Regions from separate parts of the Homo sapiens genome. Here all the other regions are linked to region 2. Evidence: fine-mapped expression QTL. A gene starts in region 2. Each other region holds a variant in brackets. All regions are shown on one strand. Distances are between the middles of the regions.

Evidence for each region.
Region 1: its variant is fine-mapped to the expression of PIK3R5 in testis (GTEx, PIP above 0.99).
Region 3: its variant is fine-mapped to the expression of PIK3R5 in whole blood (INTERVAL, PIP 0.96).

What each region holds. Positions count from the first base shown.
Region 1 is chr17:8,887,918-8,893,131 of GRCh38, reverse strand. PIK3R5 (phosphoinositide-3-kinase regulatory subunit 5) reads left to right here. Exons shown (of 19, transcript NM_001142633.3): 7 at 2,220-2,394; 8 at 3,006-3,159; 9 at 3,910-3,993; 10 at 4,241-4,961. It overlaps LOC124903922 (a long non-coding RNA gene), which reads right to left. Exons shown (of 2, transcript XR_007065613.1): 2 at 1,178-1,344. Among named protein-coding and RNA genes, the nearest start is that of PIK3R6, 23 kb to the right of the region's middle. RefSeq lists enhancers at 698-807, 3,584-4,392, 4,393-5,201. The variant A/G (reference allele first, on the strand shown) is at 2,544.
Region 2 is chr17:8,962,497-8,967,710 of GRCh38, reverse strand. It overlaps PIK3R5 (phosphoinositide-3-kinase regulatory subunit 5), which reads left to right and starts at 2,004. Exons shown (of 19, transcript NM_001142633.3): 1 at 2,004-2,115. It overlaps PIK3R5-DT (PIK3R5 divergent transcript), which reads right to left and starts at 1,864. Exons shown (of 3, transcript NR_184080.1): 1 at 1,708-1,864; 2 at 1-944. RefSeq lists silencers at 1,591-1,690, 1,761-2,080.
Region 3 is chr17:8,880,045-8,885,258 of GRCh38, reverse strand. It overlaps PIK3R5 (phosphoinositide-3-kinase regulatory subunit 5), which reads left to right. Exons shown (of 19, transcript NM_001142633.3): 15 at 476-552; 16 at 3,378-3,471; 17 at 3,547-3,629; 18 at 4,242-4,354; 19 at 4,473-5,214. The coding sequence ends at 4,620. It overlaps LOC124903919 (a long non-coding RNA gene), which reads right to left. Exons shown (of 3, transcript XR_007065610.1): 2 at 76-693. Among named protein-coding and RNA genes, the nearest start is that of PIK3R6, 15 kb to the right of the region's middle. RefSeq lists a silencer at 202-365. The variant C/T (reference allele first, on the strand shown) is at 2,075.

The sequences.
Region 1 (5,214 bases), 75 kb after region 2:
AGGACCTATAAGAAAAATCCATTTTATATGACAGCCTGATACACAAACACACACACACACACACACACACACACACACACACACAGCTGAAATGAAATGTATCCTGGTTACATAGGATGAGCTCTGTTCTATTCTATTTCATTTAAGAAACAAATTTGGCTCCCCAGATGATTTCATTACCCACTCCTGTGTCCTGACCTGCAGTTTGAAAAGCACTAGAGAGGGGGTGCCCATTAGGAGGACCCTCTGCAGGCCTTGAAGAGTTGGGTGCTGTCTCACCTTGACATGTTGGGAGCCCAGGGACCCCGGCCTTCACCACCTCAGAAATTATAGGCCCCCGGCCCTCCTCATTCCCAGCCCCAGGGGTTCACTTCCCACTCACTCCCCTGAGCAACACTTCTTGACTTCCCTCTAGGTGAAAACAAACACAAACAAAATGATAGATGTTGAGACAGAGGGAAAGGATGCTAAAATGTTGTAGTTTAGTAAGTAAATAAGATTCCTCTGGGGGAGCTGGGGCAGGTGGGCTGATGAAGAATCATCAAAGCCCTTTAGACCTTTATTCGGACTCCAGGCACCATCCTAAGCATGGTTACATGTGCTGACTCATTTAATCCTCACGTTAACCCCGTGAGAAAGGGATTTTTCACATAAGGGAAGTGAGGCACCGAGAGATTTGTAGAAAGAGCTTACAGTTGGGAGATGGTCTCACTTTCATTATCTGTAAATTGAGAATGATGATAAATTCTTCGGGAGAGAAATTATGCAAGCTGGTGAGGGCAGGGGCTCGGCTGGGCTCGTTACAAGGTTGTAAGGGGCTGCTTATACAAGCCCACCTCCTTTTTCTTACAGATAGAGAAATCAAAGTGAGTTTCTTCCCAAATGATGGGGACTTTGACAGAGACTAGTCCTGTCTCTGCCCTGTCCCCGGGCACCGACGTCCCCAGAGTGTGGAGGGAATGCTGCCCTGCGTGGTGCTCCTTTGCACTGGGTTTAAACGCAGTGTGGAATTGAGAGAGCAAGAGCTCTCATCACATGCAGCTCATACTAAAGCATTTATGGATACAAAGCCGCCATGGCTCGAATTTGCTTCGAGGTCATGCAGTGATGGAGGGGTTGGCATGGGGGAAGTGAGAACAGCCGTGCGTTGTTAACTGTAAACAGAGTGATCAGCGCCTCAGAGCCCACGATTCTTTTAATTTGGGGTATGTTTGAAAGTTTCCATAGTAGCCGGGCGCGGTGGCTCACGCCTGTGATCCCAGCACTTTGGGAGGCCGACGCGGGTGGATCACGAGGTGAGGAGTTCAAGACCAGCCTGGCTAACACATTGAAACCCTGTCTCTACTAAAAATACAAAAAAAAAAAAAGTTAGCTGGGCGTGGTGGCGGGTGCCTGTAGTCCCAGCTATTTGGGAGGCTGAGGCAGGAGAATGGTGTGAACCCGGGAGGCGGGGCTTGCAGTGAGCTGAGATCGTGCCACTGCACTCCAGCCTGGGTGACAAGAACAAGACTCCGTCTCAAAAAAAAAAAAAAAAGAGAAAGGTTCCATAATAAAGAAATGTAAACACTGGCACCAAGAGGGAATCTGGGTATCCATCGGGAAGGGAGGTAGCAGTGGCCAGGCACACAGTCCCCTCCCAGCCAGTGAAAGCCTGTATCATGGCTTTGGGCTGATTAGAAAAGGTGTCCCTCATAAGCTCAGGAAGAAGATGCACTCTGACTTGGCATCCCCTCCTCCGGGCAGATGCAGCCCCACGGCACGAGGAATTTCATGTCCCGCTCGCCCCAGACCACACTGCACAGCACCACGTTGCTGTCCAGCTCCCCCTGAAAACTGATCGCTTGGCTTCAAGTCACCTTGCCTAAAATATGATCCTCATTTGAGTAATCTTGCATCCACTCAGCTGTCTCATAGGAAAAAACGTTTATATAAAAATTAAGTAAATTTAGTTTTAAAGAATTAAGTTCAATTTTGAAAAGATCTTTGAAAACAACAGCTGAAAAATGCTCAGCAGTGAACCCCACGCTTTCCCCTGGAAACCTGGACCCTGGAGCTGTTGCTTCTGTCCTGGCCTCCTGTGGTCACCTCCTCGAGCTCTGCCTGGGCTTGAGGAGGCCCTGGTCTCAGTGGAGCTGAGCACCAGCAGGCACGAGGGGGGTGGCTGCACTGTGGCATGCTGCGCACCCCTGGGTGCCATAGCCGGTCCCCTGTGTCCCCAGCACCGTGCTGCTGCTGAACCCAGTGGAAGTGCAGGCCGAGTTCCTTGCTGTAGCCAATAAGCTGAGTACGCCCGGACACTCGCCTCACAGTGCCTACACCACCCTGCTCCTGCACGCCTTCCAGGCCACCTTTGGGGCCCACTGTGACGTCCCGGGCCTGCACTGCAGGCTACAGGTATGTACCTGGGGCCTGGGGCTCTGGTGGAGCACCTCTCTGAGGAGGTAGCACCCTCTCCCTGCTTCATCTCAGCCACGGTCTCCAGGGTACACTTAGTCTCCTGCACCCAGGTGACATGGCAGGGTGGTGGCTGGAGGGCTGACCTC[A/G]TAGAGGGTGTTTCTGGTGTGCTGGATCCTAACCAGCTGGGTGGCAGCCTGGGCAGTAGGACTGGGTGCTGATAACTGGTGCCTCAGAAGATGGCATATGCCATAAGAACGAGAATGAGCTTTGGGCTGAAGACCTGGCATCTAGGCCTGGCTCTGTCACAGGTGTCACAGGTCGGCTGTGTCACCCCACACAGCTCCTTCCCCTCTATGGGGTACAGTGAGGAGCGCTGAAGTCCCTCCTAACTGCAGTGCCGTGGCTCTGGATCTTTCTCTCCTGACCATTTCCTGAGAATGGAAGGGCAGGGAGAGGCCTGGCTGCCTGGCCAGCTGTGGGTAGGAGATGGGTGATGAGGCTGGGAGGGGACAGATCACTGCCTCCCTCAGTAAGAAGCTAGCAACTGGAACAGGTGGACAGCTAGCTCACGGTCCAGGAGCAAAGCCCATCTCCTCCTGGGGTTTCAGGCCAAGACCCTGGCAGAGCTTGAGGACATCTTCACGGAGACCGCAGAGGCACAGGAGCTGGCATCTGGCATCGGGGATGCTGCAGAGGCCCGGCGGTGGCTCAGGACCAAGCTGCAGGCGGTGGGAGAAAAAGCTGGCTTCCCTGGGGTGTTAGGTGAGGCTCTTGGGAGAATGGGGTTCTCCCACATTCCCCATGGCCTATTCTAGGTCCCAAGGTGCACGGTCCAGGCGGGCCTGGTGGCTCTGCTCCACACAGTCACTCAGGGACTCAGCTTCTTCAGCATCTCACTGCTCTGCCATCCCCTAGGGTGTCTCATTCCTGTCTATAGGGGCAGGGTGGGGGTGCTATCATGATGGCAGCTTGTGGGAAGAGGAAAAGAGAGTGCTTACGAGGGCAAAGGCTGGGCTTTTCTGTTGAAGGTGATGCAGAAGCTGGGCACATCACTTCCGCTCATGTTCCTTTGAGCCCGCCTTGGTCACGTGGCCACATCTTGCCCCAAAGGAGCCTGGGAAACATCGTCTCTATGACTCCAGTACCATAGAAGGGAGCACAGACTTTGAGGAACCATTAGCATTCCCTGTTACAATATTCCTCATAAAAACCTTCTGGGCTAGTACTATTATTCTCCCATGGGCACATTGTAAAATGAGGCTCAGAGGTTGTGGTTTGGCCACATTCGCACAGCTCATAAAGGGCATGCCATCTACATGGTGTGCTTGAAAGAAGGGCCTCTGGCTTGGAGCCTGGCACCCTGGCTGTAACTCAGCCTCAGCCTATCCAGCTACATATCCTTGTGCCGATCCTGTCCCATCTCTGGTCTCTTCTCCAAGGCAAGGGGACTGGACTGGCCAATCTCCAAGGCCTCTTCCCAGCCCTCTTCTCCTATCCTCCCTGTTCTTACAGACACTGCAAAACCAGGGAAGCTCCACACCATCCCCATCCCTGTCGCCAGGTGCTACACCTACAGCTGGAGCCAGGACAGCTTTGGTAAGGAGCCGGGGCCCTGGTGACACCCATGCCCCACACTGCCTGAGCTGTGTTTCTGGTCCTGGGTCCATGCAGCTCCCACCCCGTCCCCAAAGCTCTCCCACATGAGCAGGCTCTAAGCAGAGCAAGGGGGCAGTGCTAGGAGTCCTGGGCTGGCCCTGAGTCCTGCTGTCTCCCCTCCAAAGGGAATATAGAAGGGGATCCGGGGCCCAGACGCCCAGACAGTGCTGGCCTTGCTTCCCTGCAGACATCCTGCAGGAAATCCTGCTCAAGGAACAGGAGCTACTCCAGCCAGGGATCCTGGGAGATGATGAAGAGGAGGAAGAGGAGGAGGAGGAGGTGGAGGAGGACTTGGAAACTGACGGGCACTGTGCCGAGAGAGATTCCCTGCTCTCCACCAGCTCTTTGGCGTCCCATGACTCCACCTTGTCCCTTGCATCCTCCCAGGCCTCGGGGCCGGCCCTCTCGCGCCATCTGCTGACTTCCTTTGTCTCAGGCCTCTCTGATGGCATGGACAGCGGCTACGTGGAGGACAGCGAGGAGAGCTCCTCCGAGTGGCCTTGGAGGCGTGGCAGCCAGGAACGCCGAGGCCACCGCAGGCCTGGGCAGAAGTTCATCAGGATCTATAAACTCTTCAAGAGCACCAGCCAGCTGGTACTGCGGAGGGACTCTCGGAGCCTGGAGGGCAGCTCGGACACGGCCCTGCCCCTGAGGCGGGCAGGGAGCCTCTGCAGCCCCCTGGACGAACCAGTATCACCCCCTTCCCGGGCCCAGCGCTCCCGCTCCCTGCCCCAGCCCAAACTCGGTACCCAGCTGCCCAGCTGGCTTCTGGCCCCTGCTTCACGCCCCCAGCGCCGCCGCCCCTTCCTGAGTGGAGATGAGGATCCCAAGGCTTCCACGCTACGTGTTGTGGTCTTTGGCTCCGATCGGATTTCAGGGAAGGTGGCTCGGGCGTACAGCAACCTTCGGTAAGAGCCGTAATGCGGAGCATCCCTCTGCCCTGGGTAACAGGGTTGTTGTGCTGGTGGAATCTGGGGCCTGAGGCTTAGGGCCCCAGAGGAACCAAAAGTTCCCTTATTTATTTTTATTTTATTATTATTATTATTATTATTATTATTATTATTATTATTATTATTTTGAGACAGAGTCTTGCTCTGTTGCCCGGGCTGGAGTGCAGTGGCATGATCTCGGCTCACTGCAACCTCTGGCTCTCCAGTTCAA
Region 2 (5,214 bases):
TCCACATCTGGGCCACAGCTGTAGGTGGAGAGGAGAATGCCTACTTCTGAGGGGATGTACGATGGGACCAAGTTGGCTTCTTGGGATGCTCAGAGCCCTAGGAGTGAGCACCAATGAGCCACTCTTTTGCAGTTTTCCTCCATTTTCAGAAGGCAGGCATCCCATAATTTCTCTGGCAGATTATTTGCCTTTCCAAGTGCTCTCCTAATCCAACATTTCCATCTGGCACACAGTGTCATTCTTGCTCCTGAATTCCTGATTCCAGAGCATTTCTGCCATTTTCTTCCTTTGCACAGTGTGTACCTTCCCTCTTCTCCTCTTCTTCCAAATGTCCATATTTTTGTGGTGGAAAAAGTGGGGACAGGGGAGACAGAAGACTGGAATCCTTATCAAGTCCTCTCTCAGCCCTTGGTGGCTCTGGTTCCTTCTCTGTGAAAGGGTGACGTGTGGGGAAGGGGTTGGGGATGAGGTAGGAGAGGGGGTCTGAGTTCCTTCCCACGTCTAACGATGGCTGGAACCAGGCCTCTGTGTTCAACCAAGGGTACTTTCTGTTTCTGTCCATTTGGGGAAGTTGCTTTTTCTTGGTATTTCGGGAGTCAGGAAAAGAAAAGTCATTGGTGTTCATATCTCTCAAAGCCTCAGGTAGGGCTGCGGCTTTTGACCAACAATAACGTATGACCATGACCTTGTGGCCGAGTTTGCACGCCTCTAACAGATATTATGACACAGTTCCATTCAATAGTGGAAGTGGAGATTTCAGCGTTGCCCTTTGTTAACCCACAAATGAAGTGCTACTCTTCCATTGTGAGGGCTGTCGGAGCAGTAGCCAACCTTCTTATCCCCATTTTTTAAACGAGGGAAAGGAGGCATAGGAAGCGCAGTGTCTTGTGGGATTCCCTGGGGAGTCCTTCCAACTCTTGGTAGAGCATCATCTGCAACGTCGTCTGGGGGAGAAAAGGGGGAGGCAAGAAGAGGGCCTTGACCCTGGAGGCAGGAACTCCCGCACACCCTCACTCCCTTCCCCAGGGGCTGGGGAAACCACTCAGGTGACAGTAGCCTTGGTGCCGGCCAGGGAGGGCGGGAAGTCCAGCCAGAGGCTGGAACAGCAGTGCTGAACGCCGGGACTGGCTGGTATTTCTATGAAGGTTCCTGCAGAAGGATGCGGGTCAAGGTGCCCGTCTGCACAGCAGTAGTGCAGGCATTTTAAGGGTTAAGGGCACCCAAAGAAAATAGAAGTAGGGGCCGGGCGCAGTGGCTCACGCCTGTAATCCCAGCACTTTGGGAAGCCGAGGCGGGCGGATCACGAGGTCAAGAGATCGAGACCATCCTGGCCAACATGGTGAAACCCCGTCTCTAGTAAAAATACAAAAAATTGGGCGTGGTGGCGCGCGCCTGTAGTCCCAGCTACCCGGGAGGCTGAGGCAGGAGAATCGCTTGAACCCGGGAGGCGGAGGTTGTGGGGAGTCAAGATCGTGCCACTGCACTCCAGCCTGGCGACAGAGCGAGACTCCATCTCAAAAAAAAAAAAAAAAAAAAGAAAGAAAATAGAAGTAGGAAGAGGAAGTGGGTCGCAGTGAGAGAAGGAAGCAGCTCGTCGGAGCTTCCTCTTTCTCGTCTTTCCCCTAAGCCCCTACCCCAGACCTGCCCCCCTGCTCCGCCCAGCCCTCCTGCGGGGCCAAAGCCGCGCTTCCGACGCGGGGGCCTAACCTCCCCTTACTCCTTGGGGGTCGCTGGTGCTCCGCGCTGGTGCCCCTCGGGCCACTGCCATGGACCGGCCAGGGTCTGCTTCTTCCGAGGGCTGGCGGGTCAGAGCCGGGGCTGCTTCTCAGACGCCTTGCGGCCTCGGGGGCGTGACCCAGAGGATGTGGGGCCGGGCGCGCACCTGGCTGACGCTGCCGGGCCGCCAGGTGGCTGGAGAGGCCGGCTCCGCGGTCAGCCCCGCCCCATTAGGCCCCGCCCCCTGACAGGCTCCGCCCCGCCCGCCGGAGGAGCCCAGGCTGGGCAGATGCTGCGGCTCGCCGCGCGGCTCCAGCTGGGGCGCGGTGGTCCCGACGGTCACCCGAATCGCAGGGAGTCGCCGCTGGAGAGGGGCTCGGCGCCCGGCGGGGACTGCAGGTGTGTGACTGGGCGGCCAGGGCGGATGCGGAGGGCACGCATGGGAGCTCCAGGCAGAGCTGGAGCAAGCTGGGGACCGTCGGGGAGAGTGGGCTCCGCGAGCAGCCGCCGCAGCCCGAGGGCTGGACAGATCCTGCTATCTTCCGGCCCCGTGGACCTGGCCCACCGCGGGGGCAGCGGGTCTGCAAACCTGCGCTCCAGATAACCCCAGAGACTTAAGGGGCGTCGCGGGGACCACTTATCGTTATCCGGGTAACCTCTGCTGGGCGGCTCTGCGCAGCTGTGTCCTCAGCCTCCTGCCTCTGACACAGGACGCCCTGTGTCGTAGGGTCAGGTCCCCTGCCCGCTCCAGCGGGGAACTGTCCGTGAGCGTGGGCATCAGGGCTCTTGTGCCGTCAGAACCTGGGAGTCATGGAAGTGCCCGCGTAAGGCGCCCTCCGTCGAGCCTCACTCAGCCTGCTAGTTAGCCAGCCTTGGGCCCAGACGCGGCTGCTGTCCTAGAGAACTGCACGCTTTCTGCTCTCAGAGGATCTGTGTTTACACACTGGACATCCCCGCGTGACTCGTGTGTGTGTGTGTGTGTGTGTGTGTGTGGGCATGCGCATGTGCGCGTGCTGGCCCATCCCGGCCTGGGGTAAATACACAAAAAGTTCAGGTCAGTAGGAGGAAGGAGATTGTTCAGAAGGAAAAGGAAGGCGAGGTTAAAGCAGCAGGATGTGGTATAAAGCGAGTTAACAAGACTCGGAGTAGAGAGGAGGGGTGGGTTTAGGCAGAATAAGGGCTAAAAGTAGGCCAAGCCTGCCTCCAAGGTCCTCTCTGGACTGACACCCTCGTTTTCCTTCTGTGTCTTCTCATCCACCCCACACTTTCCTTCCTGCCCTCAGGACCACCTGTAAGGCACTGGCTCCCAGAGCTGACTGCAGGTAGGGCTCTCTTGGAGCCAACCCTACAACGTGGCTTTCCAGGGATGGGATCTGGAATCTGTAGTTTTCAAAACTTTGAATGAGCTCCTTAAGTGATGATGCTGAAGCCGTTGCTTGGGAACCATGCATGATGTGGAAAAGAGACCCAAGTTCCAACCGGATCCAGCTGTGTGACCTGCAGCATCACACTGTCCCCCAACCCAGCCTCAGTCTCCTGATTCATAAAATGGGCTGTCATACTGACCCATAGAGCTGTGTGGAATTATTATTATTATTATTATTGAGACAGGGTCTTGCTCTGTCACTCAGGCTGGAGTGCAGTGGCGTGATCATGGCTCACTGCAGCCTTAAATTCCCAGGCTCAAGCAATCCTCCGCCTCCGCCTCCCAAGTAGCTGGGATTACAGGTCAGCACCACGGCGCCCAGCTAATTTTTGTATTTTTTGTAGAGGCAGGGTTTTGCCATGTTGCCCAGGTTGGTCCCAAATTCCTTGAGCTCAAGCGATCCGTCTACCTTGGCCTTCCAAAGTGCTGGGATTATAGACATGAGCCACTGTGCCTGGCCCAGTGTGGAAAATTAAGTGAGGCATGTATGATGAGAACGGCTGCACGTGGGAGATGCTCCGTGGATGTTTGTAGAACGCTGGCTTCCGTGTTTCCTCGTTGTGGCTGTGGTGGTGTGGGTCTTTGCCTGTGGACCCGTGGAAGACAAAGAAGACAGTTTTGGATGGTCAAGCTACTTTCTTGCTTCAGGGCTCCCTCCCCTGCTTTTTGAAGCCTCACAAACCAGGACTGTGAGGGCAGGAAGGCTTGGGGTCTTTGTGTGCTGAGCCTCATTAGGGTTTTAAGAACCTCCCTCCTTTCATCTCTAGCTTACGAGAGGGATGATTCATTATCTTCCCTCCTCAGGCTGCAGTAGAAGCAGACAGTCTCTGCCTCCCTGCTTGCCTTTCCTCCCTCCCATTCACTGTTGATTATTGCCCTCAAGAATAACAGGTTGCCCAGCTACTCGAGAAGCTTAAGTGGGAGGATTGCTTGACCCCAGGAGTTCGAGGCTGCAGTGAGCTATGATCGCTTCACTGCGCTATAGCCTGGCAGACACAGAGAGACCCTATCTCAAGCAAACAGACAAACAAAAAAAAAAAAAGAAGAAGAAGAAGAAGAATAGGTTGGATGCTAACTGGTGGCACTGGGTGACAAGAGCATTTGGGGTTGATGTTGGCATGAGGATGAGAAGGCAGGGGTGCAGGCTGCTCCATACCCCTGTGTTAGCCATCCATCAGGGGCCTGCTGGCTGAGGAGTGGGAGAGGAGGAGAGCCAGGATCCTTTTTGCCTGGGTAGCCTAGAGTTTGGAAGCCCCAGCTTGGGTTCCACTGAGCACTCAAGCTGTGCTGACTTGGCCTTTCTTCAAAGATGCTCATCCCAAGGGACTGAGCTGCGTGGCCCTGTGGGACCTCTGAGAACCAGAATGCCTGTTTGGCCTCAGCTGGTGAGCTAAAAGCCTGAACCAATGTGTTAAGAAAGAAAGCTGGCCAGGCATAGTGGTTCATGCCTATAATCCCAGCACTTTGGGAAGCCAAGGCTTTGAGGCCAGGAGTTCGAGGCTGCAGTGAGCTATGATCGTGTCACTGCATTCCAGCCTGGGCAACAGAGTGAGACCCTGTCTTTACAAAAACAAAAAATAAAATTTAAAAAACAGAGAAAGCTCCTGGAAGAAGAAGATAGAGTGATCCTTAACAAGTCAAGGGAGAGGTGTTTAATTTGATTTTTGAGCCTCAGATATAGATGGGGTGGGAGGAGAGAAAGGAAAGAGTACATCTGACTTCTGCCCAAAGGGAAGATGATACCCTCCCGTAGCAAACATATATTACATAGTAAAATATTTCATCAATTTGAAGATGTACATATTTTCACATTTTAGCACTGAATGTGCTAATTGTATGAATTTCACTGAAATCAAGGTGCATTTTACTGTTTATGGCATCTTCCAATTATAATAGGCAACAATATTTCTTCCTTATTGCCACACAAAATAACGGTGCATCTTACAATTGATGGCATCTTAGATTCTATTAAATACAGTGCACTTTTTATAGATTTGGGGGATGTGTTAGCGATACACAGGTCCACACAGAATTATGTTGTTCTCATAGCTTTCATACATTAATTTTTCCAG
Region 3 (5,214 bases), 82 kb after region 2:
GGCACGGTTACCGGGAGGCAGGACCATGGGAAGGGGGGTTACATGGGAGGTCGGGCCAGGTGGAGGCAGGCTTACCCAGCAGGTGGGCCCTGGGGAGGCAGGGTTACCCAGGAGGTGGGGCCCTGGAGAGGCAGGACCCTGGGAAGGTGTGATCACAGCGGAGATGGGGCCCTGGAGAGGCAGGACCCTGGGAAGGTGTGATCACAGCGGAGATGGGGCCCTGGAGAGGCAGGACCCTGGGAATGTGTGATCACAGCGGAGATGGGCCCTGGAGTGATGGGGTCACTGAGGAGGTGGAGATCCCCAGAACGTGGAGCCAGAGAGAGAGGCAGGGCCTTGGTGAGACAGATCCCTAGGGAGTCACGGTCCATGTGGTAGGGGATGGGGAGGTAAGGCCCAGGGAGGCAAGGCCACTGCGTTCGTGAGGAGCCGGGGAAGCCAGGGGTAGTGAAGGGTCTGTCTGTGTGTGGCACAGGTCCTGGCAGCAAGCGGCTGGGCATCGATGGCGACCGGGAGGCTGTTCCTCTAACACTACAGATTATTTACAGCAAGGTAAGACCCGTGCTGGGGCTCCTTCCCCTCCAGGATCTGCTGCTGATACTTCCTCCGCCAGAGCTTGGACCCAGAGCTGGACTCGTGTGTTCCTGGGCCCCAGTCTTTACGCTGGAAGGCTGCAGCAGGCTCCCCTGGATGCTGAGAGAAGCAGAGAAGGGAAGGAGTGGATATCTCTGTGCTTCTTGGCCTCCAAAGCCTCTCTCCCACCATGTTCTCTGCCCCCACCCGAATGCGCTCAGCAGCAGCCCAGGGGTAGGGGTCTGCTGGGCCTGGCTACAGGGCTGGGGCTGAAAGGGGGAAAGGGAAGCCTTCCAGAGGCACCTCAGGGAGAAGCCAGGGTCTCGGGGGGCCAGTGTGCCTGGCAGGCTGCATGCAAGATGGGATTGGCGTGAGAAAGGAGTGAGGAGAGCTGTGGGGAGGTGGAGGGCTGTCCATGACATGCCAGAAGACATGAGTTCTCTGAGCAGGTCGCATCCCAAGGTCCAGGCTGAGGGAAGCTTGGCCTCACAGGTGGGCTTCTTCCTTCGGCCATTCCAAAGATATCCTCTTAGCACCTGCCCATGCTGCCTCTGTGCTGGGCAGGGGAAAAGAGGGGTTGAGCAGGGAAGCCTAGGCCTCACTTTAGCTTGTCTAGAGGAGGGAGACAGACAAGAAACGAGGAAACAAAGAAATAGCCAAGATAATTCCAGAGAGCGGCAAGTGATGACAAAGCAATAAAACAGCAGATGGACGGTGGTGTTGGGGCTGCAGTGCGTTTGGCAGTGAAGGAGGTGGGCAGGAGGCACCGACACTCACTGTAGCCACATGCCAGGTGCTTGCTAGACGTCTTCCACAGCCCAGGCACTGTTCTAGGCCCTGGAGCCTTCCTAAGAGTGAACAAAGGACAGACGTGGTCCCAGGAGACCTGCTGGCCCCCTGGAGTGGGTGGTAGGCATTGGTTCGATGATGCACACGATGTAAAATTACAACTGTGACACATGGATGAGGAGAGGGACACGGGATGTTCCTAAGTGGCAAACCGAACCCAGTCAGGAGAGTTAGTAGTGAAGGCTTCCTTGAGAAGGCACCTGAGTTAATATTGGAGGGAAAACCAGGAATTAATTAGGCTGAGAAGAGAGGTGAGTGCTCTCACAGCAGCAGAAACTGCATGTGCAAAGGCCCTGTGGTGGGAGGCAGTGTGAACACCTTGAAGCACTCTGAAAGAAGACCCCCAGGCTGGAGCAGAGACAGCTGGTGGGAACATGATGCTGAGGTGAGGCTAAAGAAATGGGGGACCAGCATACCAAGAGCCTTAATTGCAATGAAAGGAGTTTTGTGGTTTTTTGTTTGTTTTTTTGAGACATAGTCTCGCCCTGTTTCTCAGGCTAGAGTGCAATGGCTCAATCTTGGCTCACTGCAACATCCGCCTCCCTGGTTCAAGCAATTCTCCTGCCTCAGCCTCCTGAGTAGCTGGGTAGCAGGTGCCCGCCACCACACCCGGCTAATTTTTTGTATCTTTAGTAGAGACGGGGTTTCACCA[C/T]GTTGGCCAGGCTGGTCTCGAACTCCTGACCTCATGATCCACCTGCCTTGGCTTCCCAAAGTGCTGGGGTTACAGGCATGAGCCACCACGCCCGACCCAATGAAAGGAATTTTATCCTAGTCCTAAGAGCAGTGGATATCCATTAAGGGGGCTTATGTTTGTGGTGGGGCTGGGAATGCCTGTGACATGATTATATCTGAGGCTTGGAAGCTCCCTCTGGCAGCTCTGTGGAGGACAGATAGGAAGGGTCCACAAGTGATGCAGGAAGGCCAGTTAGGAGGCTGTTGCCATGGTCCAGAAGAGAAATTAGGGCAGCAGCCTGCACTAGGGTAGTGGTGGCAGAGCTGGAAAGGAATGGGAGACAGATGTGAGTGATGTAATCAGCAGGGCCCATGGATGGGTTAGGAAAGGAGAGGCCAGACTCCTGGAGTCACTCCTCTGTGACTGGCAGCACCATCTTCTCTGGGGGGACCACAGGAAGAGGCCGGGGTCCAGTTGGGGAAGAGCTTGAGTTTGGGTCGGGACATATTATTGAGGTTGAGAGGCCTTGAGAGGTATAAGGAGACAGTGAGAATAGACGGCTGGCTGAACGGGCCTGACTTTGTGGTGAATATGAAGATGGGTGGACAGCTGCTAATGGAAAAAGGTCACGGAGGAGACTCCTGAAGGGGGGAAGCAGGGAATACAAAGAGCAGAGGACCAAGGGGAGAACCTTGAGCCCTTCATGATGTAATGGCGGGCAGAGGGCAGCGATCCAGCAAAGCAGAGAGGCACCAGCCAGAGAGGCGCTAGAAAAACCAGGAAGGTGCCATCACGAAAGCCCAGGAGAGGTTTTCAAGGAGGGGAGAGCAGTGAACTGTAAGGTCAAGTAAGCTGAGGACCAAGAAGTGTTCTTCGGTTTAACAACATGGAGGTCCCTGATGACAGAGACATTCACACAAAGACTTGAAGAGGGGGTTCAGGTCTGGCTCTGCCAGAAACAGCATGTCTGTGGGCCCAACCCTTCTTCACTCTGGGCCCGGCAGGAGAGCTTCAGGACCACCCCTGCAGGTGCTCTCAGCTCTTGTACCTTTCAACCTGGTCACAGAGGCTGCTGACCCCTAGACCAAGCCAGTGACGTGAGCTCTTCCCTGGAGTCATCCAGGTCTATCCAGGGTGGTACAGGGGCCCTGGTGAATAAGAGAGGGCTTTCTGGGGATATGCTAACTAGAGGCAACCCCCTGTCACTGATGGGCCTTCAAAGAGAAGGCAGCAGGCACCGGGGCCTCTGGACTCAGAGGGTCTGGCTACACTGCATTTCCAGGGGGCCATCAGTGGACGAAGTCGCTGGAGCAACCTGGAGAAGGTCTGTACCTCCGTGAACCTCAACAAGGCCTGCCGGAAGCAGGAGGAGCTGGGTGAGTGGGGTGGTCAGTGTGGGGTGTGCAGTAGGGAGGTGCTCTGAGCCTGGCCTGAGTGTCCTTGCCCCTCAGATTCCAGCATGGAGGCCCTGACGCTAAACCTGACAGAAGTGGTGAAAAGGCAGAACTCCAAATCCAAGAAGGGCTTTAACCAGGTACGGGCTTCCCTCTCCTTCCAGCCATACCCTCAAGAGACTTACTGGAGCGTGCATGTGCGTATGTGTGTACGTGTGTGTGCACATGTATGTGTGTGCATGTGTGCACATACACACCCGTGTGTACATACTTGTGTGTGTGTGAGAGAGAGAGGAGAGGTGGGGGAGGAGAGGCAGGGTGAGGGGTATGATTTGGGGATGCACACAGGTGTGGAGTGTTGCGGGGTGTCGGGGAGGTAGGGGTGCCCTGTGAGAGGACGCGTGTATGTGGAAAAGTTGTGGGGTGGGTGCCAGGAGAGTCCTAAGACTCTGAGACCAAAGAAAGCAGGCTCTGGATCAGGGGACCTGGGGCTGCTCCGGTGAGGGCAGCAGGCAGGGCAATGTCTCCTCAGGGGGCACTTGCTTCTTCCAGATGCTGGAGAGGAGGCAGGGGCTGATGGAGGCCTCAGGCTCCCTCCTGTGACCTGGCCATTAACCCTGGAGCGCAGTCAGACAAACCCCTGCCCTCCCACACCCCTAGAAGTGGATGGGCAGTTCTGAGAAAAGGAACTGCCAGGGGCTGGCAGTGTTGGATGGCCAGGGATTTGGGGCTGACCTGGGCCTTCCTTCCAGATTAGCACATCGCAGATCAAAGTGGACAAGGTGCAGATCATCGGCTCCAACAGCTGCCCCTTTGCTGTGTGCCTGGACCAGGATGAGAGAAAGATCCTGCAGAGTGTAGTCAGGTAGGAAAGGGGGGTCCTAGGGAGGGGAGCAGTTTCTGCTCCCACCAACCCAGAGGCCTGGAAGGAGCTGGAAGGATGGGGGCCTGCTCTGATCCCTGGCCCCTGCCCTGCTGCACAGATGTGAGGTCTCACCGTGCTACAAGCCAGAGAAGAGCGACCTCTCCTCACCACCCCAGACGCCTCCTGACCTGCCGGCCCAGGCCGCACCTGATCTCTGCTCCCTTCTCTGCCTGCCCATCATGACTTTCAGTGGAGCTCTGCCCTAGTGTGGGCCCAGCGCCAGACTGGACAGAAGCCCTGGGGCAACCTCCTCGGCCACCCCTCCAGGACAGTCCCTCTCTGTGGAGAACTGAATGGCCCTGTGCAGAGCCATAGTCCCACTGTGGGTCCTGCAATGAGCAGGGGCTGGGAGTAGAGGGTTTCTGGGGCCTCAGGGTTCTGGGAAAGCAACAGCTATCAGAGAGAGAAGGGCCAGACCCCATAGCCTCTTAGATTCCTGGCAGTAGAAGGAGAAGGATGGGTAAATTGACCTCTGAAGTCCCTGACCATTAGCATGGTCTAGGATCCTTTCTAGAAGGAAGATCTGAGGCTCTGGTGCTCAGGGGGATGGCTTGGGCCTTTTCTCTCAACCTTGGCTGAGCCTACCCCTTACTTTGCCAAAGACTTGAGGACCCTGTATGTCTGGAGTTCAGTCCCCTCCTCTGTGGGGCTCAGGTGATTGAAATGTGGATGAAACATTTCTCTACTTCAAGACCACCTCTCCCTGCAAACACCACACACACATGGCATGCATGTACGCACATGCGCACACACACACGCACACACCTCAATAATTTCTCTCAAGTTTCCTGAGTCTCCAG